Linked DNA regions of Homo sapiens: region 1 is linked to region 2. The links come from fine-mapping of genetic effects on gene expression. A gene starts in region 2. The other region holds a variant in brackets. All regions are shown on one strand. Distances are from middle to middle.

Region 1 (5,000 bases), 90 kb before region 2:
GCACACACCTGCGGTCCCAGCTACTCCAGAGGCTGAGGTGGGAGGATTGCTTGAGCTCGGGAGATTGAGGCTGCAGTGAGCCCTGATTGTGCCAGTGCACTCTAGCCTGGATGACAGCAGATTAGGACCCTGTCTCAAAAAAAAAAAAAGAAAAGAAAAGAAAACTGAATATACCTCATGACCTGAGATTCTCTTTCGCCATAAAGGACGTTACTGAGACAACTGGTAAAATCTGGACAAAGTATATAGATTAGATGATATATTGCACTAATGTTAATTTCCTGATTTAGAGAATTATATCATGGCTATGTAAGAGAATGTCCTCATTCTTAGGAAATATACACTCAAAGTATTGAGATAAAAGGAGTGTGATGCCTGCAATTCTCTCTTAAATAATTTAGAAATGAGATAGAGGAAGAAAATGACCAATGCAATCCAATGCTAGTGTCTGGGAATCTGAATGAAATGTATATGGGAATTCTTTGTACTGTTCTTGCAACTTTTCTGCCAGTCTGAAATTGTGTCAAAATAAAAAAGTTGAAAAACAAACGGGCGGGGTGTGGTGGCTTGTGCCTGTAATCCCAGCACTTTTAGGAGCTGAGACGGGAGAATCGCTTGAGCCCAGAAGTTCAAGACTAGCCCGGGCAACATGGTGAACCCCCGTCTCTACAAAAAGTACAAAAATGAGCTGGGCGTGGTGGCGTGCACCTGTGGTCCCAGCTACTCAGGAGGCTGAGGTGGGAGGATTGCTTGAGCCTGGGAGGCAGAGGTTGCAGCGAGCCTAGATTGCACCATTGCACTCCAGCCTGAGTGACAGAGTGAGACTGTCTCAAAACAAACAAACAAGAAGTCAGTTTAGAAACTCGAAAGCTGACATTGACCCCTTTGTTCCTGCTATTCAGCTGTGGCCTCCCTTCCCTGGGGTAGAAGGCAGGAGAGCAGTGGCTGAAGCAGTGAAGGCCTGGGAGACACTTTTAGAGGAGAAAACAGTGCAGGGAATGCCAAATGCATTGGTCAAAATAATGATATTAGGAGCAGTAACCATCTGTATGTCGCAGGACAAATGCCATACGCTGAGGATGCTGTGGGCAGAGCCGGAAGTGTTTCGCAAACTTCAGCCCTTATTATCCAATCTTGGTGATTTTTGCAATTGACCTGCACAATCTTAACTTACTCAACATTTTAAAATGGACATTTTAAAAGCCTGGTATTTCTTAAAGAGGAAAGCTATCCCCATCACGCATGGAAAAGGACCGCACTAGAGATGAGCCTGAGAGGAAGGCAGGCGCCTTCACCGGGGAGAGGAAAGGCCGGCCCCGTGCCCCCAAATTGCTCTGGGGCTTTGGTGCATTGAGGCACTCAGCGAGATGTGACTGCGCTTGGTGAAAAGGGGCTGCTTTGGGCTGATGCCTGGGAAGAAGGTGACCGTTACGAACTAAATTTCCCACCCTGAACACATAGGGTTTTCTTTGTTTGTTTTGTTTTTGAGATAAAGTCTCACTGTATTGCCCAGGCTGGAGTGCAGTGGCGCGATCTCGGCTCACCACAACCTCCTCCTCCTGGGTTCAAGCCATTCTCCTGCCTCAGCTTCCCAAGTAGCTGGGATTACAGGCGTGCACCACCACGCCTGGCTAATTTTTGTATTTGTAGTAGAGATGGGGTTTCACCATATTGGCCAGGCTGGTCTCGAACGCCTGACCTCAAGCAATTCACCCACCTCGGCCTCCCAAAGTGCTGAGATTACAGACACGAGCCACTGTGCCCGGCCCACAGGGCTTTGAAATGATTCCAGACACCTCCACAGGTTGCTACGTGGGTGACGCGTTTTGCTGCGCTAAGAACTTGGTGTGCCCCTTCTTCCCTGGAGAATGTGGCCTCACCCCTTATCGGACCCCGTCTGCGAGCTCCTGACCCTCACGACTGGACTTCCATACACATGCAAACCTGCCAGTGGGACGGACCCTTTGGGAGCTCTGGCTGTGGCCGGCTGCACCCTCGGCATCTTCTCCCAAAGCTGGGAGCTCCAGCTGTGACAGGTCACCCCGCCAGCCTTGGAGCTACTCTCAGAAGCCTCTGGCCAGCGCTGGAACTGCCTTCTAGGGACCTTACAGCGCTTCCAAGAACGGCTGGTAGAAGGTGCACCTCAAACTGAGGCCTGCTTCCATCCTAAGTGAGCAAGTAGGCCTTGATCATTCTGGAACTGACCCACTGTGGGGTTAATGGGCTTCGTCTGTCGAGTGTATTCTCTGTGAGGTTTGGTCTCATTCTCTCCCTGTTTAAGCACTGGGAACCTAAGGAAAAAACATCTTTGTGTAGCAATAAACTGTGTGATTTGTGAAATCGTACTTTGATCATTTCCTTATTGTAACCACACAAAACGATCCCTAACCCCCAATGTATTTCTTTCGTGTGTGTGTGTGTGTGTGTGTGTGTGTGTGTCTCGCTCTGTCACTCAGGCTGGAGTGCAGTGGTGTCATCTTGGCTCTCTGCAACCTCTGCCTCCCAGGGTCAAGCAATTCTCCTGCCTCAGCCTCCCAAGTAGCTGGGACTACATGCATGCGCCACCATGCCCGGCAAATTTTTGTATTTTTTTTGTAGAGATAAGGTTTCCCCATGTTGCCCAGACTGCTCTT[G/C]AACTCTTGGACTCAAGTGATCCTCCTGCCTCAGCTTCCCAAAGTGCTGGGATTACAGGCATGAGCCAGCCTGTGTATTTCAAGGTAGGGCCTTTAAGGAGGTAATTCAGGTTAAATGGGTCCTAAGGGTGGGGCCCAGACCCAATATGACCGGTGTCCTTATAAGAGAGAGAGAGAGACACCAGGAGTGTACATGCCCAGAGGAAAGGCCATGTGAGGACACGGCCAGGGGCAGCCACCTGCAAACCAAAGAGAGGCCGCAGAGGAAACCAACGCTGCTGGCACCCTGATCTTAGACTTCCAGCCTCCAGAACTGTGAGGAAGATATCTCTGTGGGTTAAGTCACCCAGTCTATGGTATTTTGTTAGGGCAGCCGGAGCTTAGACAGAATGGCCTTGAGCCCACCACCACTCAGAGTGTGATCTGGGGACTGGCAGCATTCGCATCACCAGGATCTTGGGAGAAATTCACAGTCCCTGGCCCCAACCCAGCCTTGCTGAGCCCGAAATTGCATTTTGGCAAGCTCCTCCCTCCTTCCCGCGGATGGGGTGGAGGTCTCCACCAGGCCCTGGCTGTCAGCATCTCTGTGTATATGAGACATCCTAGCAGAAGCAGCCAACACAAAACAGTCCAGAGCCTGAAAGATGGTTTTCAATGTTTTATTTCACAAATTGTTCAGATTTGTTCATAAAAGATATGTTACAGGAACATTTTAGAAATCAAACCAGTTCTACTGAAACAATTGCAACAACGTGGCCCCTGTTCATGCAAAGCACAAAAAACATTTACAATAAAACTTTGTACACAGGAAGTAGCAAAATACATCATTTTTCATAGAAAAAAGCACACACATAAACTGCGGGCTGAGTGAGCCTACAGACAATATGAGAAACCAGCACACGCTTTGGAATACGGTAGGGCAAAACTCCTAAGGAAGCCGAAAATGTTCATCCTGTGGGCAGGAGAGCCAGGAACGCCGTTGGCTTGGTACAAGATCTTTTTAAACACAGGGTAAGTGTTGGTAGCACGAGGGGCCTCTATTCCACACACAGGAGAGGTGGTGCTAGGGACAGGGCTTATCATTTATAGTCTTGTTTCCATTTTCTGAAGACAAATATTCCAGTTTCAAAATGTTTGTGGGGATGATAAAGACAGCCAGGTCCATGGCCGGGCGCAGTGGCTCATGCCTGTAATCCCAGCACTTCGGGAGGCCAAGGTGGGTGGATCACCTGAGGTAAGGAGTTCGAGACCAGCCTGGCCAACATAATGAAACCCCATCTCTACTAAAAATACAAAAATTAGCCGGGCATGGTAGCTCACGCCTGTAGTCCCAGGTACTTGGGAGGCTGATGCATGAGAATTGCTTGAACCCGGGAGGCGGCAGTTGCAATGAGCAGAGATCACGCCACTGCACTCTACCTTGGGCAACAGAGTGAAACTTGGTCTCGGGAAAAAAAAAAAAAAAAAAAAAAAGACAGCCAGGTCCTGCTCTGGGCAAGGACTTTCTATCCTGCTAGGAAGGCCCAGTGAAGGAGGCATTAAGGAACCCGGGGACTTTATTTTTAAATGATGGGGTCAACTCACACTGGAAGTTTCAAGTCTCCCTTGAGTGGGATGCTTTGGAAGCGAGCCCACTGGGATCGTCCTGGACCCTTCACTAATTCTGCAAACCCCACAGGGCGATCTAATTTATCTTGCAGACACAGACACAGCCACAAAAGTCCAGCAGCAGAGCACCCAGCACCCAGAAGTTTCCCAGATGTTTGGTGGTAACTGGACTCACGACCTGACAGGCTGACCGAATTCTTCCTCTCCGACATTTGGGGCTGAGGAGTCAGTACCTATGAATTACGACTAGACTACAATGCACAAAGCACGTAGTCCTGTGAATTTTAGCTCAGTCAAGCTAAGAGTTGAACTGCTTTTTACCAACTCCTTAAAGGGGTGGGTTTTTGTTTTGTTTTAAACCTATTTACCTTCAGATTCTGCATTTATTAGAAAGGCAATCAAAGAAAGAAGGCATCACCTAGGTGCCCAGGTAGAATTTCTTGTCCAGTCTACAGTATCTTAGTTTTTGACTTTCTGCTAGTTCTTTCACCTAAGAAATATTTTGAATCAAATTTGAAACTAGCATTCACCAAAGTGATCTATTGGCTGGCCCGGTGGTAGAGAGTGGAATTTTCACCTTCTGCAAAAAAATGCTATTTACAAAAGGGTACTTCATTTCACTGTGGGCTTTTGGTCTGGGCTCATGAAGCACTTTTATAGAGTGATGGCAGCCAGGGTGTACTACACTCCTTGGCGCCTCGGGAACGTTTGGCAAGAGTCGTTTCACGAAAACAGGAAAAGAGATCCTTCTAGTGTATT
Region 2 (5,000 bases):
AGTGCGTTTGCAAAAGAAGAAAAAAGAAAAAGAAAGAAAAAGCCTCCTGAGTCTGGCGCAGGCAGACATGCAGACACCTCCCACACACAGCAAATGACGCTGGTGACAGAGGAAAGAAAAGTTCCAGTTCCCACAGGCCAAAGAGGTCAGTGCCCTGCCTCCAAAAACTTTCTGACCTCCAAAGACGTCAGAGGGTCCTGCCTCCAAAAACTTTCAAATGCAACTTACAAAGGGCCACATACTTAATTTGTGGTCTTTTGAGGGATGAAGTGCAGAGGTTTTAAGAGACCTCGCAGTCTTCTTCCCTAGCTCAGGCCTTCCCAGTCAAACCAACTCTCCTCTCCAGGACAGAGGCAGGACTCAGAACCAGCACTGATTTGGGTCCTGGGACGGGGCTCTCAGTACCTGTCAGCAATGTTGAGCCCAAGCCCAGGGTCAGTTGATCCCCTCCCAGCCTCACCCCAACAGGGACCAGGGACCCAGATCCCTGCCAACGTTAAAAAAACTCCCACATGGCACAGAAAGCCTCAACTAGCAGCAAGCTCTGCTGGGACAGTCATGTGGCTGGTCATTAGATGGGCACCTTCCCCCAGAATCTGGGGCAGGGCCCAGCCTGGACGGCAGCTCTACCCCGCCCTGGCTGTGTCATGTTGGGCACACACCTTAATAATTCTGAGCCTCAACTAACTCCTTGTAAAAAGTGCCCAGCTAATAGAGCAGGCAGTGAGCTCATCCGTGGAAACCCTGGGCATGTCTGGTCTGTACTAAGCATCATGTAAATGTCAGCTGCTTGTATTATTACAAATGGCATTATTACTATTCCTACTCTCACATCTTAAGAAACTCTGAAAAAATCAAAATCACCCTCTTGGTTTCTCCTCCCTGGGTACATTGTCCAGTGGTTTTAACTGGAGCCCCTGTAAGACAAAACATCACCTGTGTGAAGGTCAGGTTCATGGGTGGAGTTGGCAGTGGGCAGGGAAGTGTCTTAAAGAAAGCAGGGTCAAGAGTGCAGATAGGACCCACCTGGGGGTGACAGCATTCCATACCAGCTGGGGGATCTTAGGCAAGCACTTCACCTTGCTGAGCCTCAGTTTCCTCAGCTGTGAAGTGGGCATCAAGAGGCCTACTCCCCGGGGTGTTGCAGCGATGACAATACAGGTAAACTGCGTGGCACAGACCGCGTGCCTGCCGCACAGGCAACACAGTCACACACCCACCCCTTCTCCTGAGTGGGAACAGCCAGATCAGGGGCAGAAGCAGAAAATCAGGTGCATACAACCCAAGGAGCCCTGGGACAGCCGACAGTCACAACTCATGGCCTCAGTCTACTGGAAAGGACCACGCCCCGGTCCTGTTCTGCAGGCTCTCCTCACTGTCAGACATCAGACCCTGGATGGGGAAAGCAGGCTCACCCCATTCTACCAGGGCAAGAGGTCCAAAGGCCCAAAGGGGAAACTCACAACCCCACTCTCGGTTGCAAGGCAAGCTAGGCATTTGCACGGGATGCTTCTCTCAGCCAGGGCAGCAACTCACATTTTGGCTGAGAGACGCCCAATTCAAGTTGGACTGCGATGAGCAGGCATCAGCGAAGTCCTCCCTGGCTTGTCCACCAGCCCAGCCTTAGCAAGGGAGGCTCTGGGTCTGCAGCACATGAGGGACTAGCCCTGGCTCTGTCCACGTGGGACGACCGATCTCCCCCACACTCCAGAGTGAGCCCTCCGCTTCCAGGGTAACTCTCCCCACGCAGGAGTTATGCAGGTGCCCGCTCTGGCTAAAGAAACCCAGAAACGTGTTCCCCCAGACTGCAGAACCCTGACATGGCCCCAAGTCTCTACACATCCATTTGAAGCTCTGGAGACAGACAGAGCTGGGTTCCAGCCCTGGCTCTGCCCGGACAACTTACTTCACCTCTCTGACCCTCAGCATCTTCATCTGAAATGTGGGAAGAAGGCTACCTTGCAAATGAAATCACAGAGGGGCGTGGCCCTCTAAACTGCAGCTGAATGCACATGCCACTAGATCACCCTGGTCCTCCAGACATGAGTAGGACACATTCTAATGCCTGCCATATCCATGCCATCAGCTTTCCAGTTATTGACACCCACTACGAACACAGGAATGCAACAAATGCTAGTGAACTGCACGAGGAAGGCAAGAGAGTAAACAGCCTCTAAGGAGCAGGATTCTGCGCTCAGATCGGCGTTGAATCCTGGGTCCTTGGAGTCCTGGCTGCGAGGTCCTGGACAAATGAGTTGTCCTCGCTGAGCCTCAGTTTCTCCATCTGCAAAAGGGCATGTCGCAAAGCTGTGTTCCGCTATGCAAGCAGAGCACTCGGTGTGGTGCCAGCACACAGTCAGCCCTGCGAGGTGGCATCTGTCCTAGTTATTCCAGCTTCTCGGGGGGGTAACAGTTTGCAAAAGGGAGAAGCATGGAAATCACACTTACCTCCGCAGGGCTCCAATCACCAGCTCGCTGGCGTCTCCCGCGTCCAGCAGACGCGGTAGCAGCGGCGACAGCGCGGGCACAGCAGGCACAGCGGGCACAGCGAGCAGACAGCTCAATAGGAGCAGCCGGAGACGCCCTGGGATGCGAGTGGGTGCCGGGGCTCAGCGTACCGCCTCTTGTAGGCTCCCCGGAGCCCGGAGGCCACGCCCCCAGATCGCTGGCGGCGCTGGTAGGACCGAGCATCACCGGCCCCGCCCCCGGCCCCGCCCCGCAGGCTCAGCGGGCTGAAGGAGGCGGGGGGCAGCTGAGGCGCGGGCGCCGGGTGGGCGAGGAAGGCGGGGCCGCTGGCCTCCAGGGCCGGCTAGGGACAAGGAGACGCTCAGCTCCCTCGCCACTGGCCACACAAGCATAGTTTTCATTGAGCGCTTACTATGCGCCTGGCGCGGTGCCAAGCGCTTCCCACAAGGGGCTTGCAAATTTACCAAACCCCAGCTCTCTGCAGCTCAACTGGAAAATAGGAATAAGGAGGCGACCTCCCAGGATTTTAGCAAATGAAATCCGCAAGGGCTGGGCGCTGTGAACTGTGGCGCGGTGCAGAGTACACAGTTACTGAGGTGACTCCCACCCTCTACACGTGCTCAGAAAACTTAGGCCCCCTCTTCCCAATTTGCAGACGAAGAAAGGGAGACTTGTTTCCGGATGGGGCCGCTAGCGCGGGGATCCAGGCTCCGCACTTTACCTTCAACGACCCTAGGACGCGTTCCCAGGAATCCAGGGAGGTGGAAATCACCTCATTTCACAGATCCAGTAGCTGAGGCTTGGAGAAGAGCGTGCCCCAAGTCCCGTAGCTAGGAGCAGTGCAGCATGTTCATATCTCTTTTGCCCGGAGGCATTTAGCATTTTTAACCTGTGCAGGTACATACGGAAATCAATTTAGAGCCAGACGAAATCACCTTTGAAACAGGTAAATCCACGTTCCTTAAGAGCTAAGGGACTGCCCCGTGCTCCCGCCTCAGTCACAAAATGTGGACGGGTATGCAGGCACTGCGCGGTAAGGTGCTGGGGCCCAAGGGCAGGAGGGGGCCTGTCCGCACTGCTCATCTCCGCACCAAGACACCGGAATTAGCTCCTCCAGCATTAACTCATTCCCCAAATACCCATCGAGTCGCTCTGTGCCGGGCCCTGTGCTATACAGCAGGCACAAACAAGACACCTCCGGGATCTCAGAGTCTGGGGCCCCCACGAGCTAGGGCACGTGGGAGAAACAAGGATGGGGAATGGGTGGAACAAGGACTATGGAAGGCTGCCTGCGTGACGTGGACTCAAACAGGGAAGGCTTGCCTAAGATTTTGGTGCGGCTCAAATGCAGATACAGAATAATGCAGACTGGCCGGGCGCGGTGGCTCACACCTGTAATCCCAGCACTGTGGGAGTTTGAGGCGGGCGGATCACCTGAGATCAGGAGTTCGAAACCATCCCGGCCAACATGGTGACACTGTCTCTACTAAAAATACAAAAATTAGCCGGGCATGGTGGTGCATGCCTGTAGTCCCAGCTACTTGGGAGGCTGAGGCAGGAGAATCGCTCGAACCTGAGAGGCAGAGGTTGCAGTGAGCTGAGATGGCGCCATTGCACTCTAGCCTAGGAGACAAGAACAAAACTCCATCTCAAAAAGATAATAATAATGCAGATGTTTTCTGTTATCTTTTTTTCCTCTTTTTGTTTTACTTTTCTCAGTCTTTGAAGCATCATTCTTCAGAGGCACTCAACTGGCATGCAGTCATCCAATAATTAAGCACCTACTATGTGCTGGGCTCTGTTTCAAGCACTGGAGGGCTCAGTAGTGAATAAGACTGTTCCAGAACAACAGTCCTTGGATTGACAAAAGACAAATCCAAGGGGAGAAGAGATCTGTGTTAGCAGATGCCTTTGGAGGCCTGGCACGATGGCTCAGGCCTGTAATCCCAGCACTTTGGGAGGCCCAGGCAGGTGGCTTGAGTTCAGGACCAGCCTGCAACATGATGAAATCCAGTTGCTACAAAAAGTAGCCAGCATGGTGGCATATGCCTGTGGTTCCAGCCACTCAGGAGGCTGAGGTGGGAGGATTGCCTGAGCCTGGGAGGTGGAGGTTGCAGTGAGCTGAAATCGAGCCACTGCATCCCAGCCTGGGTGACAGAGCAAGACCCTATTTCAAAACAAAACCAACCAACCAAACAAACAAACAACAACAAAACAGATGCCTCTGAGTACCTGACCCCAAAGCATTATACTGCCAAATCCTGCCACCCCCAACAACCCTCCAGGCTGGTCCTGTTATTAGCCTCATTTTTTCAATGATGGAACTGAGCACAGAGAGTGTAAGTCACTTCCCTGAGGCCACACAGCCTCTGAATAGAAGAGCCAGGATTTGAATTCACACTCTCACCCACGTGGCTGCCATTGCCTGTGACCATGAAACCTTGGGTGCAGGGGAATGGAATGAACTGGGTCCCTACTCCATCCCCACTCCAGCAAAGAGGAAGGAAAGCTACACGGAATCAGCCTCTACATAG

Evidence for each region. PIP is the estimated chance that this variant, and not a neighbour inherited with it, causes the effect.
Region 1: its variant is fine-mapped to the expression of CRISPLD2 in whole blood (INTERVAL, PIP above 0.99).

What each region holds. Positions count from the first base shown.
Region 1 is chr16:84,907,787-84,912,786 of GRCh38, reverse strand. It overlaps CRISPLD2 (cysteine rich secretory protein LCCL domain containing 2), which reads right to left. Exons shown (of 15, transcript NM_031476.4): 15 at 3,279-5,000. Among named protein-coding and RNA genes, the nearest start is that of LINC02176, 18 kb to the left of the region's middle. RefSeq lists a silencer at 2,517-2,632. The variant G/C (reference allele first, on the strand shown) is at 2,634.
Region 2 is chr16:84,817,582-84,822,581 of GRCh38, reverse strand. CRISPLD2 (cysteine rich secretory protein LCCL domain containing 2) reads right to left here and starts at 2,597. Exons shown (of 15, transcript NM_031476.4): 1 at 2,449-2,597. RefSeq lists a silencer at 2,635-2,824.